7 separate regions of the Homo sapiens genome follow, and all the other regions are reported to be linked to region 3. The links are microRNA targets in miRTarBase. Many come from high-throughput screens and were not tested one by one. Region 3 holds a microRNA gene; each other region holds the end of a gene's coding sequence. Distances are from middle to middle.

Region 1 (4,615 bases), not on the chromosome of region 3:
AAATTGCTTTTAATTAAAAGATAGTATTATTTTTCCCTATCTGATTATCAGTTTGTCTTGATTATCAGTTTGTCTTGTTAATAACTTGCATCCATCCAAAACATTAGTATTTGGTTTTAGTCATTTCTTTTGGCCTTTATCAAGGGAAATATTTATTTAAAGAAGGTCTCATTTACTCCACCTCATTTAGAATGACTTTTCCCCCCCGTGTGTTAATAAACGTATTTCTTTACATTGCTTTAAAACACTTGCATCTTTGCTCTTTTCTAACTCTGAGCTTTCTTCTGTGGCTGCATCTGAGGTGCTTTTTTCAGGTATAGTTTTTTTTTTTCTTTCATTGCATAATTTTTCAGCATTTATTTTTAGTTGCCCCTTTTCTTCCAAAAATGCTCATCTGAACAAAATTTTAATGTAATGAATTATAAAATAGTACTAGTAATAAATATGAATGTTGTTTGATTAATACTTGTGTAAATGTTTAAAGTGTCTTTATTTTATTTCATGCAGGTGATGAAACTTATCAGGACATATTTCGTGATTTTTCCCAAATGGCATCCAATAATCCAGAGAAACTAAATCGTTTCCAGCAAGATTCACAGAAATTCTGAATTTTTTTAAAAATGGGAAAATATGAAATCTGGTGACCCCCTAATGTATACAGCTAAAAAATCACAATTTTTTTACTGCTTTAATTCTACTTAATTTTGGTAGATATTGAATGGCTTGGAAAAGAGGTACCCATTCATATATTTATAAATTAAAACATAGTTATCTAGTAGTAGGAGAGGAACCTAGTTTAGGACCTCTTTTATTAAAAAAGCCTATTTAAAGGGCTATTTCTGTAGACAGAAGTTCAGTCTAGATTTAGGCCATCTCTAGGTTACAAGATGATAGGAGGTTAGACAAAAGTGATTCTTTTGCCAATGGGTGGTGGCATTGATTTTTTTCCTCCATGCATCTTGCCCAGGATCACTCAGTCAAGCATGTCTTCATCAAGTGGAAGCCAACTGTCCTGCCTGCCTCAAGAATATGTGTTTTCTTTAGCTTCCCTGAGGCTTTTTGGTGGTTCAGAAATAGGTGTGTGTGTTGATGTGTTTTTGGTAACCTAGCTTTCATACACATAATATATGATTTATTAGAACTAGAGAATGTGTTTTCCCCGTTTGTTCATAAATGCGGTCGGTTATACTTCTTAGGTGACAGGTTATTGTCCAGTACTTTAATGTATGTATGTATAATGGCTGTACAGGTAGACCATAATTCAGTCCTTTAGATTTATTTTATGCAGCAAAAAGAAGCTCTTTTTTTTTTTTAATCACAAAAAAAAACCCCAGTTCAAAATGTGTAGTTCTTCATTGTTGGGTTGATTCCCCAAAACCTTGACAGATGTATCGATGGAATAAAAGTATGTTTTAAAGGTTACTTGAATGTCACAAAATTATGCCTTCATCAAAACTTTAAAGGAAAAATCAATTTATAAAATCATGTAGGCCATTTTTATATTTGAAATTTGTCCTTTTAAAGATAGTTTTGCTGTTGCTCCTAGTGAAAGAAAAATCTCTGTACAAAGGAGAAAAAGAACCCCACTTATTCTTAGTTAATACTAAAATATATAGCAATAAATTGCTGTTTATTTTTTCTACATCTATTTTGTGTACTTGTACACAGTGTACATTCTTTTAAATTATATCGTGTATATAGCTTTAGTATTCGGTTACATGATTCACAGACCCCTGAATTCCAAAATATTATGGATAAACATTACCATTTATATGCTACAAATTAGTCTGATTCCATCTTTGAAAATGTCTTAAAGTATAAAATAATTAATTTGCTTTTTTTTTTTTTTTTTCCCGAGATGGCGTCTTGCTGTGTCACCCAGGCTGGAGTGCAGTGGCACGATCTCAGCTCACTGCAGCCTCCTCCTCTTGGGTTCAAGCAATTCTCCTGCCTCAGCCTCCCGAGTAGCTGGGACTACAGGCACCCGCCACCATTCCGAGCTAATTTCTATATTTTTAGTAAAGACGGGTTTCACCATTTTGGCCAGGTTGGTCTCGAACTCCTGACCTCAGGTGATCAGCCTGCTTTAGCCTCCCAGAGTGCTGGGATTACAGGCGTGAGCCACCGCACCCAGCCTAATTTGCCTTTTGATTCCTTCCCATTGTTGTCAACAATTAAGTCTATTCTTCTTTTAGAAATTATATGTAAATGATATTATTGATACTCTTTCTAAATAAGAGGTTTTAAAATATATAAAAACTTTATGATCCAATTATAGATAAATTTTCTAACATTTCCCAGTCACTAGGGTTTTATAAGTTGATTAAACATCAAATCAGAATCTAGCCAAGCAGGAATTATATTGAAATAAGTTCACATTACAGAAAAGGTTCCATAATTTGGCCAAACTGCATGCATGTAATGCTTATTTAGTAATGGTCACTGTATGTTAGATAAGGATAAAAATATATTTGTGAATTACTTCTGAGGAAATGCTAACTTCCACAGCATTGTATTTAATTATAACAATAACAGGAACATTAAATCTTTATCTTTGCTGTTTCACCTCAAAGTCATAGATCATCTGGCTTTTTAGGCACCTTCACTAAAGGCAAAAATCTGATTTGTAGTTTTTATTAGCATGTACCTTGAAATTATTTGACCAAGAAGCTCAAAGAAAAGAAGTACGTTAAAGAAAAAGAAAAAACCTCACTTTTCCTTTATAGTGTCCCTTCCTGTTTTAATTCCTAAAGATCCTGACTTTTATCTGAGGAAGTCTAGGTAGTTTTCCTTTTGGATCTGGCCATTGGTGCGTGTTTCATTCAGATCACCTCTGGAATCTCTGTGGTTGTGAAGGCAATTCCTTATGAGACTCTTGCCTCCTGTGGCTTACGTGATGAATTGTTAATATGGCAGTAATTAATTAGTATCTACTTAAATTTAGTGGTCAGAAATGTATTTGAAGTGCCTTAAAGATGATCATGGTTCAGAATATCTTCAGAGAAAGCAAAATCTTTAATATTGCAGGGAGCCTAGCAATACAAGTACACATTTCTGTGGCTTGATTTCTTGAATATGCTGAGACCCAATTTGGACTACATTTGGCAGAAATGATGGAGTAAACAGCAAGGCTTTAAATTAAATTAATAGTTACAAGGTAGGTTGGCTCTTAGGTGAATTTAGCCATGTCAACTAATAGCTTTTATATGGTATGTAACAAATCTGAATTATGTTATGCTGTGAATTATTCAGTGCATTATAAGAAATCTTAGTTAATCATGCTTTTGGGCTTCATTAGTCAATGTGATTGGCCTTTTATTTTCTTTCCATAACTTATCTGCTATTATTAGTTTCTTATTCCTTATTATTAATCTGTTAGCTCATTATCATTAGCTTACTAACTTGAAAGTTAGATTAATATCAAAATAAGAATAGCAGCACTATGAAGAGTTAATAAAATGCAATTTCATGTTAGAGCTAGAATAAAAGTAATTGAGCAGTCATTTGCAAATGCTTCATTATAACATTTATGTGCTTAAGATTTCTAAGGTTTTAAAAAGTTACCTTTAATACAATCCTTAGAAACTCAGAAATTTCCTGATATTCATTAGATTATGGTGTTTGCCTAATTTATACCGGTTTTCACTGTATATTTTAATGAACTTTGATTGGTTACTTTTCCAGACATACAGATTTAATTTGGAATATGAACTTTGGTTCTTCATGAGTGCATTTTGAAAAAGAAAAAAAGTACACATTCAGAATCTGGCCAATTTAAGTTTGTATTTTAAAAATATTTTATGCATGTTAAGTATGGTCGCAGTAAATGAAATTGTGTTTAAGACTAAATTTACTACCGTTTTGAACAGACATTCCCAGATCATTCTTATATTGTCAGATAACACTTGTGTATAATATCACTTTGGATCATGGACATGAGCTGGAAAAATGATGTATTTTTGTAGATTGTATGTCCAGAATGACTTTAGAACCGCATGATACGGTGGAAGGAGCACTGGACTAGTCGTCACTACCCTTTTTGGATTCAGGGCTCCTCACAATTAAAATGAGTGTAATGAAACAAGGTGAAAATATAGAAGCATCCCTTTGTATACTGTTTTGCTACTTACAGTGTACTTGGCATTGCTTTATCTCACTGGATTCTCATGGTAGGATTTCTGAGATCTTAATCTAAGCTCCAAAGTTGTCTACTTTTTTGATCCTAGGGTGCTCCTTTTGTTTTACAGAGCAGGGTCACTTGATTTGCTAGCTGGTGGCAGAATTGGCACCATTACCCAGGTCTGACTGACCACCAGTCAGAGGCACTTTATTTGTATCATGAAATGATTTGAAATCATTGTAAAGCAGCGAAGTCTGATAATGAATGCCAGCTTTCCTTGTGCTTTGATAACAAAGACTCCAAATATTCTGGAGAACCTGGATAAAAGTTTGAAGGGCTAGATTGGGATTTGAAGACAAAATTGTAGGAAATCTTACATTTTTGCAATAACAAACATTAATGAAAGCAAAACATTATAAAAGTAATTTTAATTCACCACATACTTATCAATTTCTTGATGCTTCCAAATGACATCTACAGATATGGTTTTGTGGA
Region 2 (4,615 bases), not on the chromosome of region 3:
TTTCAGAATATGCCAGTGGTATTTTCCAAGAAGAAAGGCTTTGTCCATATTTCTGCTTGCATCTGACCACTGGCTTCCTTTTCTTCTTCATAGCCCTCCCAAGCAGGCAATGCCTTCCAGGAGCATACAGCCCACATCCATGCCACAGAGTACGCGGTGGGTATCTATGACAACGCCATGGTCCCCCAGATGTGTGGGAACCTCACTCCCTCGGCACACTGCATCAATGTCAGAGCTTCCAGAGACTGCGCAAGCATTTCTTCAGAGGATTCGCATGATTATGTCAATGTCCCCACAGCAGAAGAGATTGCTGAGACTCTAGCTTCTACCAAAAGCCCTTCCAGAAATCTCTTTGTTCTTCCCAGTACCCAGAAGCTGGAGTTTACTGAGGAAAGAGATGAGGGCTGTGGAGATGCTGGTGACTGCACCAGTTTGTATTCTCCAGGAGCTGAGGACAGTGATTCACTCAGCAATGGAGAAGGTTCTTCTCAGATCTCAAATGACTATGTCAACATGACAGGGTTGGATCTCAGTGCCATCCAGGAAAGGCAGCTCTGGGTGGCTTTTCAGTGCTGCAGAGACTATGAAAATGTTCCAGCAGCAGATCCCAGTGGAAGCCAGCAGCAGGCTGAGAAAGATGTGCCATCCTCAAACATAGGTCATGTCGAGGACAAGACAGATGATCCCGGGACCCATGTCCAATGTGTCAAAAGGACATTCCTTGCTTCAGGGGATTATGCAGACTTTCAGCCATTCACACAGAGTGAGGACAGTCAGATGAAACATAGAGAAGAGATGTCAAATGAGGACTCCAGTGACTATGAAAATGTGCTAACTGCCAAGTTAGGAGGCAGGGACTCTGAGCAGGGGCCTGGCACTCAGCTCCTTCCTGATGAATGAAGACCCAGGTACCCAGCCATAAAGCCACATTGAGTAGTCTATCCCATAGGATTGACTACTGCAGAGTCTAGTGCAGACCCGTGATCACCTTAGTGCTTCAGTGGATTCACTGGTTAGATTAAAAAGAGGCTGAGATGAGCAGTGAACTAAGAGGCCACACAAAAGCAGAGGTTTGGGAATTCCAGAAGGGAATTCTTCTCAAGCAGAGTGTGGTTATCTCCTGTACCAGCCTAAGAATGTTTGCTGAAACTGCTTCCTAGAACTGTGAAGAAAGCAGGAAAGTAGTGCACAGTAGTCTAAGATTATTACCTTCATTAATACCAACAGGCTGCAAAGCAAGAGTATAGATTATTGTATAATCCAGTCAGAGGTCAAAAGGAAGGAAGAAGTTGGAGTGGAGTGGGGTGGGCAATTTCCATTTTAAAGAGTGTAGGCAGGCCAGGTGCAGTGGCTCATGCCTGTAATCCCAGCATTTTGGTAGGCCGAGGAGGGCAGATCACTTGGTGCCAGGAGTTCTAGACCAGCCTGGCCAACATGACCCATCTTTACTAAAAATACAAAAATTAGCCAGGCGTGGTGGTGTGCCCCTGTAATCCCAGCTACTCAGGAGGCTGAAGCAGGAGAATCGCTTGAACCCGGGAGGTGGAGGTTGCAGCAAGCCGAGATTGTGCCACTGTACTCCAGCCTGGTGACAGAGCGAGACTCCCTCTCAAAAAAAAAAACAAACAAAAAAGAAGTGTGGGCAACCAAATGTAGGTAAGGATGAAGAAGAACAGGAACTCTCACTGGTGGCTGATGGGATTGCAAAGCGTCAGGGCAGCTTTGAAAAACTTTTCAGCAGTTTCTTATAAGCATAACTTATCATATGGCCCAGCCATTTCACTACTAGAAATTGACGCAAGTGAACTGAAAACTTATGTTCACACAAAAACTCGCACATGACTGTTTATAGCAGCTTCATTCATAATTACCAAAAACTAGAAATAACCCAGATATCCTTCAACAGGTGATTGGATAAGCTGTTGATATCCATTCCTTGAGTTTATCCATACTCAACAGTAAAAAATGAACTCTTGGTTCACACAATAATATAGACATATCTTAAATCCATTTTGCTAAGTGAAAGAAGCTAGGCCTAAAAGTCTACATGTTGGGCGATTCTATTTATATGACATTCTGGAAAAGGCAAAACTATAGGGATGAAGAACAGATCAGTTGTTGTCAGGTTTGAGAAAAGGAGGGAAGTTTGCTACAAAGGGGCTGCAAAGGGAATAGGCTGATGGAGCTGTTCTGTATGGTACTGTGTGGTGGATACATGACAATATCCATTTGCAAACACAAGAACTATACACATGGCCAGGCGCGGTGGCTCACACCCGTAATCCCAGCACTTTGCGGGGCCGAGGCAGGGGAACACAAGGTCAGGAGATCAAGACTGTCCTGGACAACATGGTGAAACCCTGTCTCTACTGTCTCTAACATTTGTAAACCTGTCTCTAATTTGTAATTTGTAAACCCTGTCTCTCATATTTGTAAAACTACAAAAATTAGCTTGGCATGGTGGTGTGCGCCTGTAGTCCCAGCTACTAGGAGGCTGAGGCAGGAGAATCACTTGAACCAGGAAGGCGGACTGCATTCCAGCCTGGGCAACAGAGAAAGACTCTGTCTCAAAAAAAAAAAAAAAAAAAAAAAACTGTACACTAGACAAAGGGGCTTTTATTGTATGCAAATTTTTTAAAAATGAACAGACTGTCAAGGGAACCCAGGATGGTATGCAAATTGTGGCAAATGAATCTAATTGTATTATAAATGTATGATATCAACTCACTGAAAGGGATGGGGAAAAAAGAACTGACAAAGTTGGAAAACAATGTTTTGACTTATAACTGTAGATAAGGACACAAAGAACTGTATACAAAAACTGCACTCTGGTTGGTAAATTTGTATCTCACAGAGGCATGGCTTAGCAATTCTAAAACGACTTTATATGTATATTTGGGTTAAATAAGTCAATCTATTGTAGATAAGGAGAGACAGGTTAGTGTAAGAATTGAATTGCAGGGCACCCAACTGGTGTCCAGAAAGCTGGAAAATTGGTCAGCTGTTGGGGGGAGAAAATCCACACATCTGGTGTCAGAAGTGTCGTGAGTGAAAACAGACCATCACTCCACCAAGTGGCCAGCATTTAAATTCATGCCACACAGAGGGAACCATGACAGTCTGGTACTGATGACCATGCAGGGTTAGCCAGGGCAGCAGCAAGCGCATCGAAAGGACAATCCCATAGTCAAGTAAGGAGAAGTTTGTATCATATGTGAGAATGAAGCTTAAATGGACTGAACAAAATCTTAAACATTGGCATGACAGAATTCTCATAACTAAGAGGGGATGAAAAGTTATGAGATCTAAATTAGAAGTTATGAAGACATCTGTCACCCAGTAAGGGTGGGAGGGACAACGTATCAGTTGGGGGCAGGTCCTGGAATAAACTAAGCCAGCTCTTTTTTATTTTTTGAGATGGAGCTTTGGTCTTGTCACCCAGGCTGGAGTGCAATGGCATGATCTTGGCTCACTGCAACCTCCACCTCCCAAGTTCAAGCAATTCTCCTGCCTTCGCCTCCCAAGTAGCTGAGATTACAGGCGCCTGCTACCATGGTAATTTTGTATTTTTAGTAGAGATGGGGTTTCACCATGTTGGTTAGGCTGGTCTCGAACTTCTGACCTCAGGTGATCCACCTGCTGTGGCCTCCCAAAGTGCTGGAATTACAGGCGTGAGCCACCACACTGGGCCTTAAGGCAGCTCTTGCTTGTTTACACACCAACAAGCTGGATACCTCAATCAGCCAGTCACACTTACATACTCTCCCAAATCAAGAATGATTAATGCACTGTAGATTGTCTCATATTTAGATACGTAACTTTTCTGTTTATTTCTTGTTTTAAGAAATTTTTGCAAATGAATCAATGAAAAATTTTTTATTGAATGTTAATTTTTTTCTTTCCATTTATGGTTTTGTTTTCTCACATTAGTTGCCAGGAAATGTTGACTAATTGTCTTATCTCATACACTCGATGATGCTAAATATGAGGAAATTTTTTCAAGATTAGGATAGGATGAAAAAGTAGATATAAAGATAACCAAGGCCAGGTACAGTGGCTCACGCCTATAATCCCAGCTCTGTGGGAGGCCACGGCAGGCAGATGACTTCAGCCCAGGGGTTCAAGACCAGCCTGGGCAACATGGTAAAACCCATCTCTACAAAAAATACAAAAATTAGCTAGACATGGTGGTGCCTGCCTGTAGTTCCAGCTACTCGGGAGGCTGAGGTGGGAGGATCACTTGAGCCCAAGAGGTTGAGGCTGCAGTGAGCCATATTCTTGCCTCTGCATTCCAGCCTGGGTGATAGCAAGACTCTGCCTCAAACAAACAAAGATAACTAACCCATTTTGATTCCTTAATTAGTTAAATAAAATGAATTAATTACCCAAACCTACATTATATTGATTGTGTCTTCATTCAGGATACTGTTTAGTACAAAATACAGAGGTTTGCTAAGTTCCCTCCTTCCCTCTAGAAGCACCCACCCTCTAATGGTGAATGGAAGATGAGGTCTTGCTGTCCCTCTGGCATCTGTTCTCCTTCAGCACCCCCTTACTATGACAGGCTTTATCGTCAATTCTGGGTTTCCTGTGGGCTGAGGGCCTATACTGACTT
Region 3 (4,615 bases):
CTTCACCCACTTTATGATGGGGTTGTTTGTTTTGTTTTGTAAATGTGTTTAAGTTCTTTGTAGATTCTGGATATTAACCCTTTGTCAGATGGATAGCTTGCAAAATTTTTCTCCCATTCTGTAGGTTGCCTGTTCACTCTGATTTGATAGTTTTTTGTTGTTGTTGTTTTGTTTGTTTGTTTTTTTGCTGTGCAGAGGCTCTTTAGTTTAATAAGATCCCATTTGTCAATTTTGGCTTTTGTTGTCATGCTTTTGGTGTTTTAGTCATGAAGTCGTTGCCCATGCCTATGTCCTGAATGGTATTACGTAGGTTTACTTCCAGAGTTTTAATTGTTTTAGGTCTTACATTTAAGACTTTAATCCATCTTGAGTTAATTTTTATATAAGGTGTAAGGAAGGGATCCAGTTTTAGTTTTCTGCGTATGACTAGCCAGTTTTCCCAACACCATTTTAGTAAATAGGGAGTCCTTTCCCTATTGCTTGTTTTTGTTAGGTGTGTCAAAGACCACATGGTTGCAGATGTGTGGCGTTATTTCTGAGGCATCTGTTCTGTTCCATTGGTCTATGTATCTGTTTTGGTGCCAGTACCATGCTGTTTCGGTTACTGTAGCCTTGTAGTAGAGTTTGAAGTCAGGTAGCGTGATGACTTCAGCTTTGTTCTTTTTGCTTAGGATTACCTTGGCTCTACGGGCTCTTTTCTGGTTCCATATGAAATTTAAAGTAGTTTTTTCTAATTCTGTGAAGAAAGTCAGTGGTAACTTGATGGGGATAACATTGAATCTATAAATTACTTTGTGTAGTATGGCCATTTTCATGATATTGATTTTCCCTATCCATGAGCATGGAATGTTTATCCCTTTGTTTGTGTCCTCTCTTATTTCCTTGAGCAGTGGTTTGCAGTTGTCCTTGAATAGTTCCTTCACGTCCCTTGTAAATTGTATTCCTAGGTATTTTATTCTCTTTGTAGCAATTGTGAATGAGTCCCCTCATGGTTTGGCTCTCTGTTTGTCTATAATTAGTGTATAAGAATGCTTGTGATTTTTGCACATTGATTTTGAATCCTGAGACTTTGCTGAAGTTGCTTATGGAGGTTTTGGGCTGAGATAATGGAGTATTCTAAATACACAATAATGTCATCTGCAAACAGAGACAATTTGACTTCCTCTTTTCCTATTTGAATACCCTTTATTTCTTTCTCTTTACTGATTGTCCTGGCCAGAACTTCCAATACTATCTTGAATACGAATGGTGAGAGAGGGCATCCTTGTCTTGTGCCAGTTTTGAAAGCCCATTTTGCCCATTCAGTATGATATTGGCTGTGGGTTTGTCATAAATAGTTGTTATTATTTTGGGATATGTTCCATCAATGCCTAGTTTTTTGAGAGGTTTTAGCATGATGGGGTGTTGAATTTTATCGAAGGCCTTTTCTGCATCTATTGAGATAACCATTTGGTTTTTGTCATTGGTTCTGTTTATGTGATGGATTACATTTATTGATTTGCATATGTTGAACCAGCCTTGAATCCCACGGATAAAGCCTACTTGATTATGGTGGATAAGCTTTTTGATATGCTGGTGGATTTGGTTTGCCAGTATTTTATTGAGGATTTTTGCATCAATGTTCATCAGGGACATTGGCATGAATTTTTCATTTTTTTGTCTGCCAGGTTTTCATATCAAGATAATACTGGCTTCTAAATTCCCACAGGAGAAAGTGGGAAAGATCTAAAATCGACACTCTAACATCGCAATTAAAAGAACTAGAGAAGCAAGAGCAAACAAATTCAAAAGCTAGCAGAAGACAACAAATAACTAAGATTGGAGCTGAACTGAAGGAGATGGAGACATGAAAAACCCTTAAAAAAATCAATGAATCCAGGAGCTGTTTTTTTTTTAAAGATTAACAAACTAGATAGACCACTAGCCAGACCAATGAAGAAGAAAAGAGAGAATAATCAAATAGACACAATAAAAAATGATAAAGGGCATATCACCACTGATCCCACAGAAATACACACTACCATCAGAGAATACTGTAAACACTTCTATGCAAATAAACTAGAAAATCTATAAGAAATGGACACATTCCTGAACACATAAACCCTTCCAAGACTAAACCAGGAAGAAGTCAAATCCCTGAATAGACTAATAACAAGTTCTGTAATTGAGGCAGTAATTAATAGCCTACCAACCAAAAAAGCCCAGCACCAGAAGGATTCACAGCCAAATTCTACCAGAGGTACAAAGAGGAGCTGGTACCATTCCTTCTGAATCTATTTCAAACAATAGAAAAAGAGGGGATCCTCCCTAACTCATTTTATGAGGCCAGCATTATCCTGATATCAAAACCTGGCAGAGACACATTTGGTTCTTTTAAGCAATAGATTAGCCTCAGTTTTAGTATGGTACCTCTCTCAGAATCAAAAGACTGGACCATCATAAAAATCACACTCTCCCTTAACTCACTATTTTTAAGATTAATCACATTCACATGTATTTTTTTGACTATTTCTAAGGGAGACTGTGTTTTATTCACTGCTGTACTGCAAATGTTTTCTTTCCCTTCCCATGAATATTTCTGGAAATCTCCTGTGTTTATTTACTTAATTTGCTTTGTTTTATAGTTTACAAAAGGGCCATTGTAATATGGTATGAAGTTTGTATTCTTCAATAAAACTTAAATCACTAGTTATTCTCTAATACTATAATTGTCAATGATAATGTCTTCTGTGTAAACCTGGCAATTTTCACTTAATTGCTTCCATGTTTATAAAAGACATAAAAGATGATTAACATCTGGTCTACTGTGGAACAGGCCTTGGAAATTACTTAAATAACTTTCCGTTGATACCTTGGGCCATAATCACTAATGGCTTATATAACTTGCAAATGATTCAAATCATTTTATTCCACAAATATTTAGCAAAATAGTAGCAAAAATATGACTTGGCTTAAAACCGTCACTTATTTATTGAGGGCATTGCATAACTTAAGCTAATTATGATTGTTAGTTTTAGATAAATGCATTAGTAGGCTTCCCTTTGGCTCTTGAAATGAATGTTTCTCAAATCAACTTGCCATAGAAAACTTTAAATGATCCTATTTTAAAATACCAGATACAAAATATACTTTAATCAGATGCAAAGGTCATTTCTATTTTCTCTAGATTTATCTTATTTATACTGAAAGATGGAATGGTATGATGTAACATGGCCACCAATCATCAATGAGATAAAATTTAACTCAAAAACATTCACTTAATTTTAGAGGCATTTGTGAAAATACTGTAACAGTGAACTTTTGAAATTTAAAGGAATGATTCTAATTAAATCAGTGACTTTGCCACGTATCAGAAACACCTAGTTAAAGTTGCACTTTTTGCGTTGATAGGATGCTCAGCTATTAGGTGTCACAGTATTAATGCTAAAAGCTGATCTGAAGCAGGGAGATTAGGGATTGCCAAAGTGGTATAAATCAGTTAAGAGTGTTGCCTGCAGGTCGTATTTGTTTCTTTTTATTTTATATTACTTTTCTGTACAGTCAAAGGATAAGTAATTTTTGTTGATGTGAAAATACATTGTTTATTCCTAGTAGCCCCACTATATTTTATTTAATAGCCTTAAAAATTTTCGAAATCACTGCCTTACTTTGTTCCTACCAAAGAAAATGTAATTTAATAAACCAACTTTTGTTATATTTAAAGCATATAATGATGATTGTTCTAAGGGGAGTTGCATTTTAACTGTTGACGCCAAGGCCAAGATAATTATTTGCCTTAAATAATAACTACAATGGAAGAATTATAGGCATATTTAAAATAGAAAAGGTGTTTAATAATTGTGATTTTAAACATTTAAAAATTAGAAAAAGCATTTGGAAGAAAATTAAATATTCCTATAATTTCGTTAACCAGAGATATACCCTGGTGTTATTTTGGAATATTTTCTTGTATTTATATACTGATGATTCTTGAGCATACATAATTTTACTTTTTGTTATTTTATTGAGAAAAGAGTGAAAATTAATACATAAATGTTTTCCTTCTGTTAAGGGTTCCTGTCTAAGACTCCCTAAGCACTGATAGACTGCCACTAAACACTCATCCACCAGGAGGAATAGAAATTTTGAAGCAATTAAACCTTTAAGTTTCAAATTTCTGCCCAAGATATAAGACAGTGTATTAATCCCTCTTTTCCCGCAATATCTTCATCTTAACTTCTCTTTGCTTCCCCTTCCACAACCTTAACCTTCAATGCTCTCGAACCTTCAAAATCATTCCTTTGCATTGTGTTCTCTGTAACAACAGCAACAAAAACAGCAGCTCTGGCATCTTTCAGTTCTGAACAAGAGGTCGTAAATGGTAGGTGTTTCTTGCCTAGAACAATGCAACCTTGAAGGATTCAGAAATGCAAGTTGTATATTCTCTGGGTTGGGAATTGAGATGAAGAGTTTGCTAAATCTCAAATGCCACTTTTACTATCTTATGTTCCAGTGTGGCTCAGGCTTTCTGGATATTTATGAATTGGTGCCACTAAATATCCAGGTCTCCATTCTTACTGGGCCCTAAATTCTGCTCAGCAATCCATCTTCATTTTCCTGCACATTCTTCTGTCAG
Region 4 (4,615 bases), not on the chromosome of region 3:
TGTGCTAAAATTTAAAGTTGTAACATGTAAATATTTCTGTATTTTTGAATTACCTTCTATTGAAGGAACATGTAATATTAACATATTCACTAGGCCAAATCGGTGTTTTTGTATCTCTTTTTAACCACCAAGCAAATTTCTAGGCTGCTAGAATCAGCCTGTCAGTGGCAGAAGTTATGGTTAGAAATCCTCTCCTGTTCATTTTATAGATGGGAAAACTTAAGGAGCCATGAGGGGGTTCTGCAACTCACCAGTCACACAGTCAGTTAATGGCCAAGGAAAGAACCCATTCTCCCAAATGCCAACCCAGTACTCTCCACAGAATTAAGCTATATTAGCATCGTAAGCTAACAACTCTTTTCCTACATCCCTACTGTAAGCCCCAGTAAAATGAAGCTAAAGTATCTTTTCCCCCTCCTGATTATTGGGAAATCTGCATTACCTAAATGCCAGATGCCTTGGGATTTCAAAATAGAATTATCTTACTGAAGAGAGGGCTGGTTAATAGAATGGAATAATAAATGACTACTGCTGTGGCTTAGATTTTTAAGAGAGTCCTATTGCAGTCTGTCTACCATGACAATGACCTGCTTTGGTTTCCCTAAGAACACCCAAGAGGAGCAATGACAAAAGTACACATTTTTATTAATAGCTGAATTTTAAACAGCCAATGTGTGGAGGTTATTTACTAACCAACAGGAAACACCTGCAGCAGGCTGCATACTTATAGAGCAGCAAACTTAAGGGAAGTCTGTAAGGCTTTACTGTCTTCCTTTTCAAGTCTCTTCACTGCTATGCACAGTTGAGGGCATAACCTTAAAAGTCTGTAACATAACAAAAACATTTTAAACATCAAACATCGTGCTTTCCCCACTGTGGCACATTTTTAGAGTAAAGCATTTGGCCAACTGGATGTTACAGCATGATGCCCACTACATTATGTTTAAGCTTCCATTCCAGTTCTGAACCCACCAGACCCTTGGAGCAGCTGGAATTACCAAATCAACAGGGTATCAGTGTAACTCAATCCTACATGGAGCAAACAGACAAAGCAGTTAGTTCCTCAAACACCCAATTTACTTGACAGAATCAAAGACCAACTTTATAAGTTTAGAAGTTTTTAAAAGCAGATACACATTTAGAATTAAGCTAAATGTATATCCTCCGTGTTCCCCCATCCTCACCCTCAACTCTCACACACTCACCCCCTTGGTAGGAGAATGGTGAGAAGTGGATGAAACTTGATGCTTGACTACATGGCTCCAGTAATGCAGTGAAAAGACAAAAACACATCAACGTGACGTTCCAGGGAAATAAACGCGAAATCATGCATCCAACTGGCCACTAAGGGTTGGCTGTACAGAATTGTAGTATGCGTATGGAGAAAATGCTAACTGAACCTTTCTAAACAAATAAAAATATACACAATTATTTTTCCAATAGCTCAAGTATTGACTTATTTTATGGGCAGATGATACCAAACTAGCAAAAAGCTTTATGCTAAAAATGTGCCTTTGTGGGAAAACCAGCATGTTCGGTACTTAAAATATTTCCATTCTGAACTGAAGTCAGTGAATAGGCATGTCTTGCAACTTCATTTGCTTAGCAGGGTCTTGGTTTGATTTGTAAAAACTGGGACATAAAATGTTTTACTAGCACTTGCCACTTAAAGTCCTAAATTTGGTGTATTGTGACCGTTGACAAGTAGTAGCATTTCCCCCGCCCCCAAAAAATCACAATATCAATTCTGTGGATATTTTAAAAGTTTATTTCTATTTTAACTAGCCCACAGACCCCATTCTTTGAGGGCTGATCTGATTTCTGACAAATGGTCTATAGACCCTCCTCTCGGAAACTTCCAAAAAAGTCTGCACCTTCCATCATGATGCACATTTTAAGTTAAAATTGCCAATACAACCCTTAAAATGCAAGTTTATTGAATAAAGCTGAGAAGAGCAGTAAACAGACAAAAAATGCATCCACCTAAATAAAAAAATTCACATATTTACATAGTTCAGTAACTGTTAAAAGTTTTCACATGCAGAGGTTAATGCACAGGAAAATGTTGGTAATAGCGTCTGGATGTCTTGAAATGCGGAAAGCAATGTATAGACACACAAACACATTAAGGTTTAGCTATAGGTCAATTAACAAACCTATGCAGTCCCCACAGAGTCACACATTCTAGTTCCAATTCCTCCTTTTAGGCACAAGCAAGTTGCCACATTCTTTGTAATGGTTCACACTGACCATTAATGGTGTTGAACAACAGTAGCAAGTTTAAATATCCCTTCATTTACAGAACCATCCATCCCACCAGGGTAGTATGCAACATGCTTCAAAGAATAAGAAGAGAAATTTAAAAGCCCAGATTCTACTCATAAAAATATGAATGGAGAAAAGCAAGTAGTGTCTGTGCAACACAGTGCAGTATATTGTACAGAATATTTTTAAGGCCATGGCAGTCTATAAATTAAAACTGATATTCATTAAAAGAACTTACTGTTGACTACACTCTGAGTGCTCAACACATTTGGAAATGCAGTCTACATAAGTGCTGCTTAACAAAAGAAACAAAATCACACACAGTGTGAGGCAACACATAAGCAGGTGTACCATAGAGTTTTATCTACTACAGTGGTCTATATGAATAATAATTTACAAATGAACCAGTATTAATATGTCCCTTTATGTATACGGAAGTCGCTAAACTACAAAACATGTCCATTTGAAGTTTTTAGACATCTCTGTATCATAGAAGCAAACAAACAGCATCAGTTCCTCAGTTCTCTGTGTGACTGATTATTAAACAACCTGTAGACATTGAGCATGATTACATTAGATAAAGCAGGCAGGTCTAGAGTTGTCACAATAATCAAGATGTCTAATGGCACCAGTCAAAAGAGTGCCAAAGCTTACATCAGTAAGAGAGAAAAATAAAAATTTTTTATTTGTTTATAAGTATCTTTTGTGCTGAAAGTCAACTTTATGACTGGATATAAAAAGTCAGGAGTTAAGAGTGTCATGCAGCAGCACTGATTTAATGACTGGAGATAGAACAAACAGATGTTTGAACAAAGACTGACATTCTTAACAGGTTTTATTATATTGGGTGGAATGCTCTAAATTCATGAACGCTTTTGGAAAATCTTCAATTCTCAACCCCTTAAAAAAGTATCCTGAACCAGGAAGAAAAAACAAGAGACAGAAATAATGATCTGGACAGATACAAAACAGGATGCTTTAGTTCCTCCCATATCCCAACTGCCATCTGGTGATAGAGTTCTCAGAAAGCAGGATATCTTTAATATTCATCAGGCAGAATCTCACCAGTGCAAAGAACCAACATTGATCTGGTGCCTCCGCTCACTCTCTGCAGACCATTTTGGATTCCTAAGATGTAATTATACATTTCACATGCATTTGTGAGATAAAATAAACATTATGTTTACATATATCCCACATGAGTCATTCACGCCTAAAGGTTTTCTAAATACTGTGTGTGGCACTAGAAACTTCATGCTGTATCAAGTCAGTGTCAGTATTAAGCTACTGGACTCTATAATGAAATATTATAGATAGACATTTACTGAAAACCAATATAAAAATCTGGCCCAGAAAGACCAGAATGGAAATATGCAATTTTCTTGATTTAAGATGGTCATAAGTATATGGGGTTTTTTTTCTGTTTTTAAAGCTCTACACATGGTTTAAGACAGGTATGTGTAAGAAGCCTTTTTGTGTGTGCTGACTTTATCATGACAACTCTAGCTGATTCTTTATGAAGGATTAGGGATATTCATCTTCAGCAGTGCACATGAGAAATAAACTCTGAAAAAGGCAATTTCTGGGGTTTAGGAAGGACCGTATTCTGGGAATTACTTCAGAGGAACGGACAATAATTCTAGGATTATAGCCAAGAAGGACTGGAAGACTTCAGGAGATGCTTCAGCTTCTTCTAGATTTTGAATGCTGAATAAGCCACTGAAGTGTGATATCTAAAGATAGAGGGGAAAAGTGAAGACATTAAAGTTAAAAAACTAAACATCAAACAGAGACAATATTTAAAAGGCAGCTAATTCAAGGCACACACTATGCCTGACCTCTGCTGCTTTTCTGCATCTGCATTACCATACTCCATTACCCGAACTTCAAGAGAATATGAGGAATTATCAGAGACTGAAGCGTTTTCTGATTTAAAAATTAAGTTGTGTATAGGACGGCTGGTGCCACCTTTTATGTGTTGCCCACACAATCAATCAGGTGTTGCATGCAAATTGCCAGGAAGGCAAAAAAAAAAAAAAAAAAAAAGGAATAACCCCTGTTTGCCCTCAAGGCGCTTTTAAGTATAATACACAGAAAAGATGCAGTAATTCCCGGGGCTTGGGGGCCACCCCACAGAACTCCAGGTTAAAAAAAAAAAACAGCAAAAGAATGTTAAAAGGCATGAAACATTGTGGAGCTCTGGATGGATTGTGAGTGATACAATGTGACTAAAGCACAGGGATGGGAGAGGAGGCTGTCACTGCCAAGGCTGGTGCAGGGTTCACACCATGCCCTTTTGACATCTGGGGCTGGGTAATTCTTGTCCTCACTTCTTCAGAAGGGTACATGA
Region 5 (4,613 bases), not on the chromosome of region 3:
GGCACCTATGAATGTATGCTGTGTGCTAGAAATAGACTAAAACATATTCCTATAGCATGTTAGTGTGTTTGCATGTTTGCTGAAAATCCTTTGTGTATAAACCAGTTTGTAAGGTTCTCTGGGTTAGGTAGGGACTCTGCAGTTTCTTCCTGTCAAAATCTCTCCTACCAAGATGGTGTTCCACTGTCCAGCCCAGCATGAGTAGCAGGTAGAGCACAGCTTTACTGGCTGTTTGTATGCTTTGGTTTAGTGCAATGTGTGGTAGATTACTTATCAGAAAACATATATGTCATCTCTAGAACGAAGAAAAAGCATAGTAGTTCAATTCCCAGTGTGTCCCTTTGATTTTTTTTTTTTAATAGTAAAAATAAGAATCTGTACTGACTTTTCACTTGGCCATTCTGGTTTTAAAGGACAAGCTACAAGCTCTGTGTTTCTGTACTGATGTGTCACTTATTAAATACTTTTGTACCATGAGTAAAACTTCAGGTGTTTCGCAAGAACCACCATTCTCAATGAGTTGTATTCTTTCTTTAATGTAGCCACTGCCATAAGGTTATTAATTATTGCTTTGGTCTTTTTTTTTTTTTTTTAAATGCCACCTCTCCTGGGCTTGCTTTCCCTTGCTTTGTCTATAAATGGGAGGTCCACCACAGCCCAGGCATGCTGGGAGCACTTGCTAAGACCTGTGGACCAGCCTGCCTACTTGAGAAAAGGCCAGTGGACAAGTCCAGAGATTAAATGATGAAAAAACGATGATAAAGGCAAATTGGTTTTTCACCCTTTTTTTTTTCTTTTTTTTTTGGGAATGGAGTTTTGCTTTTGTTGCCCAGGCTGGAGTGCAATGGCACGATCTCGGCACACTGCAACCTCCACCTCCCGAGTTCCAGTGATTCTGCTGCCTCAGCCTCCCAAGCAGCCGGGATTATAGGTGTCCACAAACACGCCCAGCTAATTTTTGTATTTTTAGTAGAGACAGGGTTTCACCATGTTGGTCAGGCTGGTCTTGAACTCCTGACTTCAGGTGATCACCCACCTCCCAAAGTGCTGGGATCACAGGTGTGAGCCACCATGCCTGGCTGGTTTTTTCACCCTTTCTGCTCAGCAAAAAGGAGGCAAGTCTGTTGTCACTTAATATTATAAGTAGACATTCTGATTTCTTTTAAAATAAACTAGCAGCCTGTCTCTCCATCCTCAGACACTTAGACTGTGATGTCAGGTGCCACCTTTGATGGGGCTCCCACCTGCCCTGGGGTGAGGAAGCCCCAGTCCTCTTGCTTAGGACTCCTCCCCAGTGGGAAGCAGTAGTCACACAAACTGCTGAGCCTTAGCATTGACTGAATGCCTTTAATGTCCCCCCTGAAACAGGCTTTTGATTCATGTTGGAAACATAAGAGGGGTGAGCTCTCTAACTTGCCTGGGATTTTGTTTTACATTTAAGTGTATTGCCCTTCCTTAAAACCAAACTCTTATAACTTACTCCTGGAAGGACTAATTTATTATTCAAACTCCGAGACTTTAGAGTAAAAAGTGATGCTATTAATATTTATACCAGGGCCAAGTGTGGTGGTTCATGCCGATAATCTCAGCGCTTTGGGAGGCTGAGATGGGAGGATCACTTGAAGCTGGGAGTTTAAGACCAGCCTAAGCAATATAGCGAGACCCAATGTCTACAAAAAATTTAAAAATCAGCCGGGCACAGTGGCTCACGCTGGTAATCCCAGCACTTTGGGAGGCCGAGACGGGCGGATCACGAGGTCAGGAGATCGAGACCATCCTGGCTAACACGGTGAAACCCCGTCTCTACTAAAAATACAAAACATTAGCCAGGCATGGTGGCACGCACCTGTAGTCCGTTACTCGGGAGGCTGAGGCAGGAGAATCGCTTGAATCTGGGAGGCAGAGGTTGCAGTGAGCCGAGATCACGCCACTGCAGTCCAGCCTGGGTGACAAAGTGAGACTCCATCTCAAAAAAAAAAAAAAACAAAAATTAGCTGGGCATGGTGGCCTGCACTTGTAGTCCAAGCTACTGAGGAAGCTGAGGTGGGAGGATTGCTTGAGCCTGGGCAGTCAAGGCTGCAGTGAGCTGTAGTTGTGGCACTGTACTCCAACCTGGGCAAGAGAGCAAGACCCTGTCTCTTAAAAAAAAAAAAAATCGGCCAGGTGTGGTGGCTCACACCTGTAATCCCAGCACTTTGGGAGGCTAAGGCAGGCGGATCATGAAGTCAGGAGATCAAGACCATCCTGGCTAACATGGTGAAACCCCATCTCTACTAAAAATACAAAAAATCAGCTGGGCGTGGTGGCGCTCACCTGTAGTCTCAGCTACTCAGGAGGCTGAGGCAGGAGAATTGCTTGAACCCAGAAGGCGGAGATTGCAGTGAGCCAAGATTGCGCCATTGCACTCCAGCCTGGGCACTAGAGCAAGACTCGGTCTCCAAAAAATAAAAATAAAAAATAACAAAAGGGTACAGAGGGTACCTAGAAATGCTTTTACCTTATTGTTCAGAGAACGTTGTTCTGTGGTGTTGGAAAAATAAGCTCAGGAGTACTCAGCTGCTTTCCTCTGCTGTCTCTACCAGCTCTGAGCAGGCAGCATGGCCAGCCACCTTGATTATATGACCTCCAAGCTTCACAGACTTTCAAGGTAGATGATATTGTTGAAATCTTTGATTCAGTAAGCTCACCTAACCTGCCCAAAGCAAGGGTGACTAAGTTATTGTCAAACTGAGTCACTTGTGAGAATAAAAGGCCGTGCTATTCTATTTATGCCAGCACAAACAGCATAAACCAGGACTGTTCCAGACCCAGCAAGCAGGAAGTATAGGCAGCCTTCCTCCGGTCAAAGAGTTCGCAGGTGGTGCTGAACGACTCCAGAACGTGAACTGCCCTACAGCAGGCATCTTCTACAGTCAAGCTGAGGTCTCCTGGAGGTTACAAGCACCTGTAAAAGTGATTTGCCAACATCTTGTCCAAATAATTTCTCTCATCTTTATTTTTATTAAAAAAAATAAAACAGTCACCACCAACCACATGACAACTCGCCAGGCAAGGCCTTGCTTCCCTCCCTCCTTTGCGTCCCATGTGCCTAGTCAGCAAGGTCGGGGAGGCACCGATGTTAGCTTCGCCCAAAGGGAGTATTACAGAGAGAGGCTTGGGAAAGGGAAGGAAACCTGGACAGGCTTTTCAGCACTGAGAAATCACTTAAAACTGATTTGCTTTCAGTAACTGGTATGTCTGAAATGCAGGGAGGGAAGACCATGCTGTCAGCAATCAACCCACTTTTTACAGGTTGGCTCCAGGGAGAGGTTGGTTGAAACGGTGTTTAAAGGAAGGAGAGTGGTTTCACCAGCTTGCTCAGCTCTCCTGGAACAAAGACTAAGGTGCTACGTGTTGCTTGTTAGGCTTATACTACGGCGGGTCTGGGGCTGCAGGTCTGGAGTCCTTGTTAGTGCATTTAGTGCTGGTGAGAAGGGTGGGCCCCAGTCTTGGACGCTGAAGTCCTCTAAAGACAAGGCAGAGACACAGCCTCAGATCCCCCGTCATCTTCCACTGAATAAGGGGGATGGAGAAGAGGTCTCAGCAGTTGGCCTCCTGCAAGCCGAGATGCCTGCCAGCCTGGGCCTGCTTCCTTAGCGCTGTGAGAGCTTATGTCTGACGGGCAGAGAGGAGCAAATGCAGTCCCTGTTGGGCTGACTCCACGCAGGGCTCCCCAGCTTCAGGCTTGCAGGGTGACCCTGCTCTGTGACCCAGCGGCGGCTTCAGCCCCAGAGGGGGCCGTGGCACAGGTGGTTTAGGCATAGCCGCCAGCCATCTGACTGGTGGCCGCATTGCTGCCTACTCCTCGCCAGGCCTGGTAGCTGAAGAAGGCACTCACTCCATAGGCGATCATCACCAAACACGCAAAGAACTGAAAGAGAGGTGAGAAGGGCTTAAGGACCGAGAGGGTGACAGTGACACAAGCTCCAACCAGATCTCAGGCCAGGCAGGAGGGGTTGTGGCAGCCGCACCATCTCACACTTAGCCAGATGCATTTCACAGCTGTTTATCATGGGGCTGATGAGCACCAGGGTCCTGGGATACCAACATTACCTTCTAACCATGGGAAACAGCTAAGAACCACAGGCAGGGCCTGTCAGATTGTGATAAGGGCAATGAAGGAGAAGATAAGAGTGACAGAGGGGACACCTAGCAAGGATTTAGTTCTAAAAAGACAACATTCAAAGGACACCCTAGGAATCTCCTAGAACCAGTTCAAGCCTCTATACTAACACCTGCAGCCACATTCAGAAGCTCCCCGTCTCTGTCCCCATCACTGAATTTGCTGATTTCAAAACTGCCCTCATCAGGAAGAGTAAGGAACCAAATGCGTGCCCATTGAGGCCCTGCCCTCCCCTGGGCTTGGCCGTGGCTCCAGGCCTGGCGTCCAACTTCTCTGAGCAGGAGCCTCCTGTCTGTCAAAAGGAACTGGTAGTCCCTTCCTCTCCCTCACTGTGGGTGTCGCAGGATCCTGGGAGGAGATGGTGTGCAGGGCCTGGTGGTGTGAAGGGTGACAGGCGTGGAGGGGACTACTGCCACTTCACTGGCCACCTGACGTGGGCCCAGAGTTTGGG
Region 6 (4,615 bases), not on the chromosome of region 3:
ACCGGTCAAATCTCATTACACATCAGAAAACTCATACAGGAGAGAAATCTTATATATGTTCCAAATGTGGAAAGGCCTTCACCCAGAGGTCAGACTTGATTACACATCAGAGAATCCATACTGGGGAGAAGCCTTATGAATGCAATACTTGTGGAAAAGCCTTTACTCAGAAGTCAAATCTTAATATACATCAGAAAATTCACACTGGAGAGAGACAGTATGAATGCCACGAATGTGGGAAAGCCTTCAACCAGAAATCAATACTCATTGTTCATCAGAAAATTCATACAGGAGAGAAACCCTATGTATGCACTGAGTGTGGAAGAGCTTTCATCCGCAAGTCAAACTTTATTACTCATCAAAGAATTCATACTGGAGAGAAGCCTTATGAATGCAGTGACTGTGGGAAGTCCTTTACCTCCAAGTCTCAGCTCCTGGTGCATCAGCCAGTTCACACAGGAGAGAAACCCTATGTGTGTGCCGAGTGTGGGAAAGCCTTTAGTGGCAGGTCAAATCTCAGTAAGCACCAGAAAACTCATACCGGAGAAAAGCCCTACATTTGTTCTGAATGTGGGAAGACCTTTCGACAGAAGTCAGAGTTGATTACACATCACAGAATTCATACTGGAGAGAAACCTTATGAGTGCAGTGACTGTGGGAAGTCTTTCACTAAAAAATCACAGCTCCAAGTGCATCAGCGAATTCACACTGGAGAGAAGCCTTACGTGTGTGCTGAGTGTGGGAAGGCCTTTAGCAACAGGTCCAATTTGAATAAACATCAGACAACACACACTGGAGACAAACCCTACAAGTGTGGCATCTGTGGGAAAGGCTTCGTTCAGAAATCAGTGTTCAGTGTTCATCAGAGCAGCCACGCTTGAGAGAAACAGTGTGAGAAAACCCCCCTGAGGGTTGGGTCTGATTGTACACTGTTGCACGCATGCAGCAGAAAAATATGTATATTATTGTAAATAGAAATGACCACATCAGAATGTCACACATGGCTGTTCTGGAGAGGGCCTCTGAGAAGGCACTGAATGAGGCGAGGGACCCTTCCTACATTGTCACCATCCCCAGTAAACCTTGGGTCATTATTCATACTGACAAGGAACCGAGTCAATTTGGTGAATAGGAAAAGCCTTCTCATGAAAACTACAATAGAATACTGTTACCAAATTCTTCATAAGAAAGATCATATTATGGGAATGATAATCCTGTTTACTGTGGATTAGGTATAGTGCCAACAGTTTGAATGGTAAGACAACATAATATATATGATAGTGATGAATCCTTCTGTGAGTTGTTTGTTCCAGAACACACTGTCTAGTAGAATTGTGGGTATTTTCTTCTTTTGAATCGAACACAGTTGTGCATATCCAATTCCCCATTGAGTATTTCTATCAAGCAAGAGATACTGCAATAAGACAAACTCCCTGTGTATTCAGACACAGACCTCAGAGCGTATGTTGAGTCCCCATTGTCATAGAAAAAGACTTACAGTCCCCTTCATTATCTGCCAGGACTCTCTCTGAGCCCCACAGGTTCTCAGCACATTGTGTTTGACACCCAGCACAGTGTTTTTTCTTTTTCTTTCTTTCTTTCTCTTTCTTTCTTTCTTTCTTTCTTTCTTTCTTTCTTTCTTTCTTTCTTTCTTTCTTTCTTTCCTTCTTTCTTTCTTTTTCTTTCTTTCTCTTTCTTTCTTTCTTTCTTTCTTTCTTTCTTTCTTTCTTTCTTTCTTTCTTTCTTTCTTTTTTTGAGACAGAGTCTTGCTCTGTCGGGCAAGCTAGAGTGCAGTGGCGCTATCTTGGCTCACTGCAACCTCCGTCTCCCGGGCTCAAGCAATTCTCCTGCCTCAGCCTCCTGAGTAGCTGGGATTGCGTGTGCCACCACGCCCAGCTAATTTTTGTATGTTTAGTAGAAACGGGGGTTTCACCATGCTGGCCAGGCTGGTCTCGAACTCCTGACCTCATGATCCGCCCGCCTCGGCCTCCCAAAGTCCTGGGATTACGGACGTGAGCCACTGCGCCCGGCCCAGCACAGTGTTTTGTACACTCCCACCACCCTCAAGAAAGCCTTTGAGGTTAGGATTTTCAGGTCATCTGGGAGAACTTAAATTCTTCCTTCTGCTATTACAATTCTTCTCACTCAGTTGCCTGCCTCTTTTTTTTTTTTAATTTACTTGTGACTGAGTTGAAGCCCAGCATTTTACTTTCCTTAATGATCTGACTTTCATAAGTTGATAAGTCATGAAATCATTATCTTACATTATATGAGATATGAGATAAATCATAAATCATATGAAATTGATAACTCATATGAAAACCAACCCCACCATATGTTCACTGTCTACTTGTGTCCATCTTCGTCCCACGCACCCCACAAGGACCTTCCCCGCCATGTGCCTCAAACATCAGTTCCTGACTCAGGGCCTTTGTATTTGCAGTGCCCGTTGCAAAGAGCACAATTCTTTATTTTATCTGTGGCTTGTCCGTCATGTCTTTTTTTCCATGACACCTCCACACAGGCCTTCCCTGCCTGCCTGGTTTAAAATTCCAGCCCCTTACCCTTCCTCCTTTATTCTTCTCCCTAGCAATTTCCACCATGCTGCCTGGTGTATTTTCCTCATTTCTCTGTGGCTTCTACACTAGAAAATATTTCCCTTTTGTTCACCACTATGAGTCTAGACCCATGACTGCCATACAGCAGGCATTCCATAAATGCACCTGTGGAGAGTTGACCCATGCTTGTTGCGTGACTTCTGTCTGATTTTTTTCTGTGTTGCAGCATAAGAAGCGCTAATAGGGAGAACCAACTTGGCTAAAACACACCAGGCTTTTTCACCTCTAGTCTGTACCTGGGCTGTATCCCTTCTCAACCCTAAAGCTAAAAAGTCATTGTGAACCTTTTGGTCTGATGCTAAAGAAGGGAAAACAGGTACAGGAAATCCCATGTGGATGCTTGCTTCCAGGATTTCCTGCCATGATTCCAGAATCCCACAGCTCCAACATGATTGCAAAAGACTCCCTGCTCATTTTTCCTCAGCATGCACAGCGCTGTCCTGTCTCAGTTGCAACTCGACAGAGCCGCATTTACTCCAGAACCCAATCCACACACCTGCTCATCCTGCCCCGAGAGGAGTGCCTGAAGCCAATAGCAGGGAACTAGAGCAGACTTGGGTGGATCTTCATTGGATATTAGGTATCTTGCCCTAGATAGGCAGCAGTGGCCTTACAGATGCTGACAGATGATCTGATTAGATGCACAGTTGCTGGGTGGCGTCTGGGGCCAGTCTATTGGCAGTTCTGGGAGTGGGAACTATTTGGGCTCTGCAAAGATGGTTTCACCTTTAAGAAGGGCAGTATGGGGAGGTGAAGATGGGGCCCAAAGGATAGAACATAGTCAAAGAAGCAGGGCCACAATGCCCCTTTAATTCCCAAGCCCTAGTTGGGCAGTGCTTGGTGACACATCCCATTACCTCACCTTAGATCAATGTCTACTGAGCCATCATTAGCTCTGCTTCCTCACTTCTTCACAGTATCTGATGGCCCATCACATGCTGCTCAACATCTTAGACCAATGTCTGCTCACCCATTACCTCCCTTCACCTCATCCAGCACTGTATCTGAAGCTTCACTATTCTTCCTTCAGTTTTGGATATTTTGTGATACAACATTATCCCCAACTTAGGACAATGTCAGCTGACTCTCAGGAGGGTGCCTGGAGATCACCTCTTCCTTCCTAACATACCCTAGAACAAGGTCTGGTCCCCTTCATTATTCCCATTTTACCTTACTCCTAAGTGTATCACTCCTCATGAATTCCAGGAAATATGGAGGAAAACACATTTCACTGTACATGACTTTCAATAATTTCTCCTTTATATTTATTGTAACGTGATATTTTAGTGCTGACATATATATGTATATGTATGCCCATTTATATAAAAGACTAGTTTTTAGAGAAATTTTAGGTTCACAGCAAAATGGGGCAGAAGGTACAGAGATTTCCCATATATCCCCTACCCTCACATATACACAGCCTCCCCCATCATCAACATCCCCCTTCAGAGTGGTACATTTGTTACAATTGATGAAACTACATTGACACTATCGGCCAAAGTCCATGGTTTAATTAGGGTTCAGTCTTGATGTGCATTCTGTGGGTTGAGACAAATGAATAATGACATGTATGCATTATTACAGAAGGATAAAGAGCCGTTTCACTGTCCCAATAATCCTCTGTGTTTCGCCTACTCCTCTAAACTCCTGGCTATTTTCTTTTGTCTCCATAATTTTGCCTCTGAACCATAAAGTATGCAGCCTTTTCAGATTGATTTGTTTCACTTAGTAATGTGGATTTAAGTTTCTTCCATGTCTTTTCGTAGCTTGCTAGCTCTTTTTTTTTTTTTTTTCTCATTGAATAATATGCTATTGTCTGGAAGTACCATGACTTATTTATCCATTCACCTACTGAAGGACACCTTAATTGCTTCCAAGTTTTGTTGATTATGAATAAAGATGCTATAAACACCTGTGTGCAGGTTTTTGTGTGAACATGACTGTAATATTTTAAGGTCGTATTTATTGAGGTATAATTTACATACAGTAATATTCAC
Region 7 (4,615 bases), 27 Mb from region 3:
TTCAGAAGTGCAGCTACACCCCCAGGAACTAACCTCTTGCTTTGTACCTTCTGCCAGGAAATGACCCATCCATATGTGACTTCTGCTGTGGTCTCACGGCTGTCCAGGAGGCTGTGTTTACCTCCTCTCCCTAAGCACTTGAATTCCCTGGGAGTCCTGTCCAGAGCCCCTGGACACCCCACCTTTCCTTAAACCCTTCCTTAGGGTGGGTATGATTTAGCAGTCAATCCTGATGTTTTCATCACAGAGTCAGAGTGACCTTTGATCAAAACCACATCGCATATATTACTTACATGGTGATGTTTTGTCCTCTCAGATTGCTGGGCCCTTACCAGATGCAGCATATGCTGAACCCTGCATCCCAAAGGCCCTCCACAGGAGCGTGTGTTCAGGATGGAAATGTTTGTTTGCATGACGTGATGGCAACCATGGGTCTTTGGGAATGCAAAAGAAGAGCTCAGGGAAATTGGTTACAAAGGAAATGGTCTTTACCCAGAGCAGCTTTGAGGGCTTCAGGGGAGCAGTGAACTTTGCATACCTGAGCTCTGAGGACGTGCCTGCGTGTGGCTTCTCTCTGTTTTGCCCCGCACCCATTGGAGTTGGCATGTGTCCTTCCATTTTCTTTCCCGTTTATAGGATGGCATAAGGAAAATACACATTTATCTTTAGAAAGGGGCTGTGGTGTGGATTGGATATGTGCAAAGCTGGGTTTCCAAGCTTACAGGCATGAACGAAGTGACTCCAATCACAAATACTCCCTGTCAAGCTGCAAATACATAAACTGTGAGAAAATTAGTCACCTGGGAAAGCTAGATTAACATGCCAACCAGGAAGTAATTTCAAATGCAGTTTAAGGTTTGCATTTATTGACGATACCATTTTGTTTTTAATCGTGTAAATGAGGCCATTTGTTAGTGTTACATGGAGGTTTGGAGGGGATGTCACAGTCCTTCTCTACTTAAGAAGTGTCCTGACCTTTTCTCAGCAACAACTTGATATCAGAAGTTGTGAACTTGGCTGGGCGTGGTGGCTCATACCTGTAATCCCAGCACTTTGGGAGGCCGAGGTGGGCGGATTGGCTGAGCTCAGGAGTTCGCGACCAGCCTGGGCAACACGGTGAAACCCCATCTCTACTAAAATACAAAAAATTAACCGGGCGTGGCGGCATGCACCTGTAGTCCCCGCTACTCGGGAGGCTGAGGTAGGAGAATTGCTTGAACCCGGGAGGCGGAGGTTGCAGTGAGCTGAGATCGCGCTACTGCACTCCAGCCTGGGCGACAGAGTAGGACTGTCTCCCCCCAAAAAAAAAAAAAAGTTGTGAACTTGTGCCTGATTCTGTCTCAGGGTTTGGTATGCCTCTGACTGACTCGCAGGCACTACTTCAGGGGTGATGACTTCTTGAAGGGCTGCTTCGAACCCCACAGCCTTAAGCTCAGCTGACCTTGTTGTTCTACTACCTGTACAAAAAGACAGCCTTTCCCTTTCTAAAGATGTCTCCTAAGTGGGCCAGGATCCACCTGTCATCCAGCTTTATCTCAAAGTAGAGGCACGCTCCAGCCATAATGAGGCATATTCTGTTTTGCCTGTCTTGAATACACAGAGCTGAGATTCACCATTGTTGGTGAGTAGAGATGCACTGAGAGGAGGACTGGGTTTTACCCGATGTTCCAGACCCATCTACGGAGTAGGGAAAGCAGCAGGTAGTCATCACCCACCTTTTGCCTGGGCCCTGCCCCTGCAGCTCTTGAGCACGTCCCCTTGGGCGCCGAGTGCGGTCTTTTCAAAAGGAGCGTGAGAGGAGAGGAGAGGGCGATGGCGCGTGCCCACTGGGTTTTCCTGAAAACACTGCTGCACTGGGGCGCTTTCCATGAGTCATTCCTAGGACAGCCAAGGATACTCTCTGACAGCTCTCTTTAGCCAGTTCCCCAGCTGTTGTAATGGGGTGAGATGCCATTCTCCCTCCCGCTCCTGGACAAAGAGGTCCACATTTTAAATAGTAAAACGGCAAACCTTTAGTTCTTGCTGGTCTTCCTAGCTGTGGCGGGGGGAGTAAATAAGGAACTCTGAAGTGTCCAGTGGCCACCCTGTAAATTCATTTGCAAACAATTCTTAAAGCATTTTTTTTACAGCATAAGAGCATCTTGTGGGCCAAGGAAACTGCAGCTCTTGATTCTACCGTCCAAACCTTTCCCCAGTGGGACTTGATTAACCAGTAGGTGTTACCAACCTGATCCACAGAGACTACCTTGAACTAAGGGTGCTGAGAGGTCTCCGTGGCCACTGGTGACAGATTGATACTCCCGGGCCTCCCCTCAGTGGAGGCGTCTCGCTGTGTGAAGATGCCGTGTTCTCAGATGGGCTCAGCTGTCAGCGTGTGGCCAGCGTTAGGTTGAGCTTCCTGCTGCTTAGAAACCCAAGAGCTCGGCGAGCTGTGTCTGCTGGAGATTGGTGCAGTGAAGCAGCAGGGATCAAGTTAGCCTGGGCAGCTGCTGTGGGATCTGAGTGCAGCATCCCCAGAGGAGCCGCTCCAGCTGCAGATGACATGGGGCCTTGACCTCCGTGCACATCTGGTCCGTCTTCACAAGCCAGAAACAAAACCCAAGTGTATAGCTTGGATGCGGAGGGGTAACAGTTTTGTAGCTGAGATTAATTTTACTCAAGGTTACTTTCTGTAGCCCTTTTTGAAACAAAACATTTCTTCAGTTTGCTTTTTAGCAACAACTCCCGATCTGTAAGGGACCACACTTAAATTAACAAAAGTTAACTGGAAATGGCTTTCCATCTTTATTGACACTCCCTGTCTTTGCACTTAAATTGTACATGCCATTTAAGGAGCCCAACAAGCTTTGGGAACAGTCTCTAACGCATCCCTATTTGCAGCTGGGCGAAGGCCCGCCTGAGCAGGTTAAGTCCCAGGCGGCAATGGTGAGCCAAGCGTGGAACAGCCCAAACTAAAGTCGGGGTCTCTGTGCGGCGGCACGGGCCACTTCGGCACTTCAGTGTTTAAACTTCTGCATGCAGTGTAAAGACAGACAGCTGGCCACAGTGCTGCCCTGCAGTAAAGACCAGCCACCGTGACCGGCTCTCCCCTGCCTCCCTCCTCCCAGCCCACAGTCAGACGGAGCCTCTGTGGCAAGCTCAGGCCCAGTCCAGGGCCCTCAGAGTGTAGATACAGGTGGAGGCCTTTCCAAGTCTTCCAGTTGTCCAGTTAGAGTGGCAGAAAAGTCAGTGGCCATGTTCACCGTGTGCCTCACTCCCTGCAGCCTGGCTGGATGCAGTAAGGCATGGTGGCCTCAACAGCGAGGGAAGGCCTTTATGTTGGGGCCTATGTGGAAACTCTAGCCCCGTGCTTCCATTACATACAAACCGAATATATTAAAGCTTTAGAGTTTTTACAACTATCTATCTTTCCCCTGACATCTCCCCAGCCACCTTAGAGGTGGGAAAGGAAAGGATATAAGAAAACCCCACTAAATGTGGAGTACATTTCATCAAAGTCTGTGTGAGCCAGCTTGCCCCCAGTCACCACGACGTTGACTGCATCTCCCGCCTTCAGGTGCACGATGAGGTGGAATGCCCCCGGGCCCCCGCAGGTATGCAAAGCTCCTGGAGGGCGGTGGTATTCCAGGAACTCTCTCCTGTACCCAGCGGTATGCAGCTGGGCCACGCTGGCGTTGGAGACCGACAGCACTGCTTCCACGTAGGCGTCTCTCTCGGGGGTGAGGGTGGCCGTGATCAGGTAGCGCCCATCATAAGGAGCCGTGAAGACCCCTGCGGGGAGAAAGGCAAACCCTGTGCTCACCTGCTGTCGTCACAGCCCTTGCCATGGTAGTAAGTGGCCCCCCAGTGATTAACCTGGGCCTGGGAGACCAGCCATCTCTGTCTTCCCATGGTAGCTGGCTGCCTGCCTCAGCTGCTTTTTATGCTCATCCCCTACAGCCTACCCGTGATGCAGAGGCCACCTTAGCCCATACCACTTTTTGCCATGGGCCTAAGAATGCCTCTTGGAGGCATTCCTTATTGGAAGCACCTAAAGGCTAAAGTCAGCCTCAAAGCTTGGCTGCTGGGCAGAATACCCGGGAGGCAGGGCCAATAAAAACGAAGCTTGCCACCAACCCAGGGAGAGGCAGACATGGCACCTTGTAACCCCAGGGGCCATGCCAGGCTCCTCGTGGAAGAGGCCCATTCTCCCCATGCTGGGCAATGGCCAGAAGTGAGCACTGATACTCAGCCCATGACCCACACGTTCTGGGCCCAGGGTGGGAAAGGAAGTGGTGGCCAAAGGTGAGGAAGGTGGAAAGATCTGTACATGTCACAATTCGCTAAGCAGAAGCAGCTGTAGGTGGCCCCACAGCTAGGAGAGTCAGTGCCAACACCAAATGCCGGCAGGAATGGCCATCACTCACGGGCTCCGCAGCAGACATCGGACCTTGCCGCTGACAACAAGCCAAGAGTGGACATAAAGCGGAGGGCCCAGGAGCTAAAAAGGGTGGTCCTGGCCATGCGTGGTGGCTCACGCCTGTAATCCCAGCACTTTGGGAGGCCAAGGTGGGCAGATCACCTGAGGTCAGGAGTTTGAGACCAGCCTGGCCAACACGGATAACCCCATCTCTAC

Evidence for each region. Region 3 holds the annotated microRNA hsa-miR-302f (UAAUUGCUUCCAUGUUU, at 2,753-2,769, shown strand). A microRNA usually pairs through its seed, bases 2 to 8, with sites in the 3' UTR of a target mRNA and lowers its output. Matches are read on the target gene's strand: a 7mer-m8 pairs with bases 2 to 8, a 7mer-A1 pairs with bases 2 to 7 and ends in A, and an 8mer does both.
Region 1: the mRNA of ACAP2 is a reported target of hsa-miR-302f. Seed matches in the 3' UTR shown: 7mer-m8 at 1,938-1,944.
Region 2: the mRNA of LAX1 is a reported target of hsa-miR-302f. The part of its 3' UTR that is shown has no 7-base or 8-base seed match.
Region 4: the mRNA of ARL8B is a reported target of hsa-miR-302f. The part of its 3' UTR that is shown has no 7-base or 8-base seed match.
Region 5: the mRNA of PLLP is a reported target of hsa-miR-302f. The part of its 3' UTR that is shown has no 7-base or 8-base seed match.
Region 6: the mRNA of ZNF585B is a reported target of hsa-miR-302f. Seed matches in the 3' UTR shown: 7mer-m8 at 1,838-1,844 and 7mer-m8 at 2,589-2,595.
Region 7: the mRNA of EMILIN2 is a reported target of hsa-miR-302f. Seed matches in the 3' UTR shown: 7mer-m8 at 1,209-1,215.

The regions. Positions count from the first base shown.
Region 1 is chr3:195,275,321-195,279,935 of GRCh38, reverse strand. It overlaps ACAP2 (ArfGAP with coiled-coil, ankyrin repeat and PH domains 2), which reads left to right. Exons shown (of 23, transcript NM_012287.6): 23 at 508-4,615. The coding sequence ends at 608. Among named protein-coding and RNA genes, the nearest start is that of XXYLT1, 6.5 kb to the right of the region's middle.
Region 2 is chr1:203,773,782-203,778,396 of GRCh38, forward strand. LAX1 (lymphocyte transmembrane adaptor 1) reads left to right here. Exons shown (of 5, transcript NM_017773.4): 5 at 94-2,591. The coding sequence ends at 900. Among named protein-coding and RNA genes, the nearest start is that of LAX1, 11 kb to the left of the region's middle.
Region 3 is chr18:30,296,184-30,300,798 of GRCh38, forward strand. MIR302F (microRNA 302f) reads left to right here and starts at 2,727; the gene lies at 2,727-2,777.
Region 4 is chr3:5,178,047-5,182,661 of GRCh38, reverse strand. ARL8B (ARF like GTPase 8B) reads right to left here. Exons shown (of 7, transcript NM_018184.3): 7 at 1,751-3,998. The coding sequence ends at 3,949. Among named protein-coding and RNA genes, the nearest start is that of EDEM1, 7.4 kb to the left of the region's middle. RefSeq lists an enhancer at 520-569.
Region 5 is chr16:57,253,120-57,257,732 of GRCh38, forward strand. It overlaps PLLP (plasmolipin), which reads right to left. Exons shown (of 4, transcript NM_015993.3): 4 at 2,978-3,910. The coding sequence ends at 3,794. ARL2BP (ARF like GTPase 2 binding protein) reads left to right here. Exons shown (of 6, transcript NM_012106.4): 6 at 1-516. Among named protein-coding and RNA genes, the nearest start is that of ARL2BP, 10 kb to the left of the region's middle.
Region 6 is chr19:37,181,493-37,186,107 of GRCh38, reverse strand. ZNF585B (zinc finger protein 585B) reads left to right here. Exons shown (of 5, transcript NM_152279.4): 5 at 1-4,529. The coding sequence ends at 881. Among named protein-coding and RNA genes, the nearest start is that of ZNF585A, 11 kb to the right of the region's middle.
Region 7 is chr18:2,912,223-2,916,837 of GRCh38, reverse strand. It overlaps EMILIN2 (elastin microfibril interfacer 2), which reads right to left. Exons shown (of 8, transcript NM_032048.3): 8 at 835-3,771. The coding sequence ends at 3,434. Among named protein-coding and RNA genes, the nearest start is that of LPIN2-AS2, 52 kb to the left of the region's middle.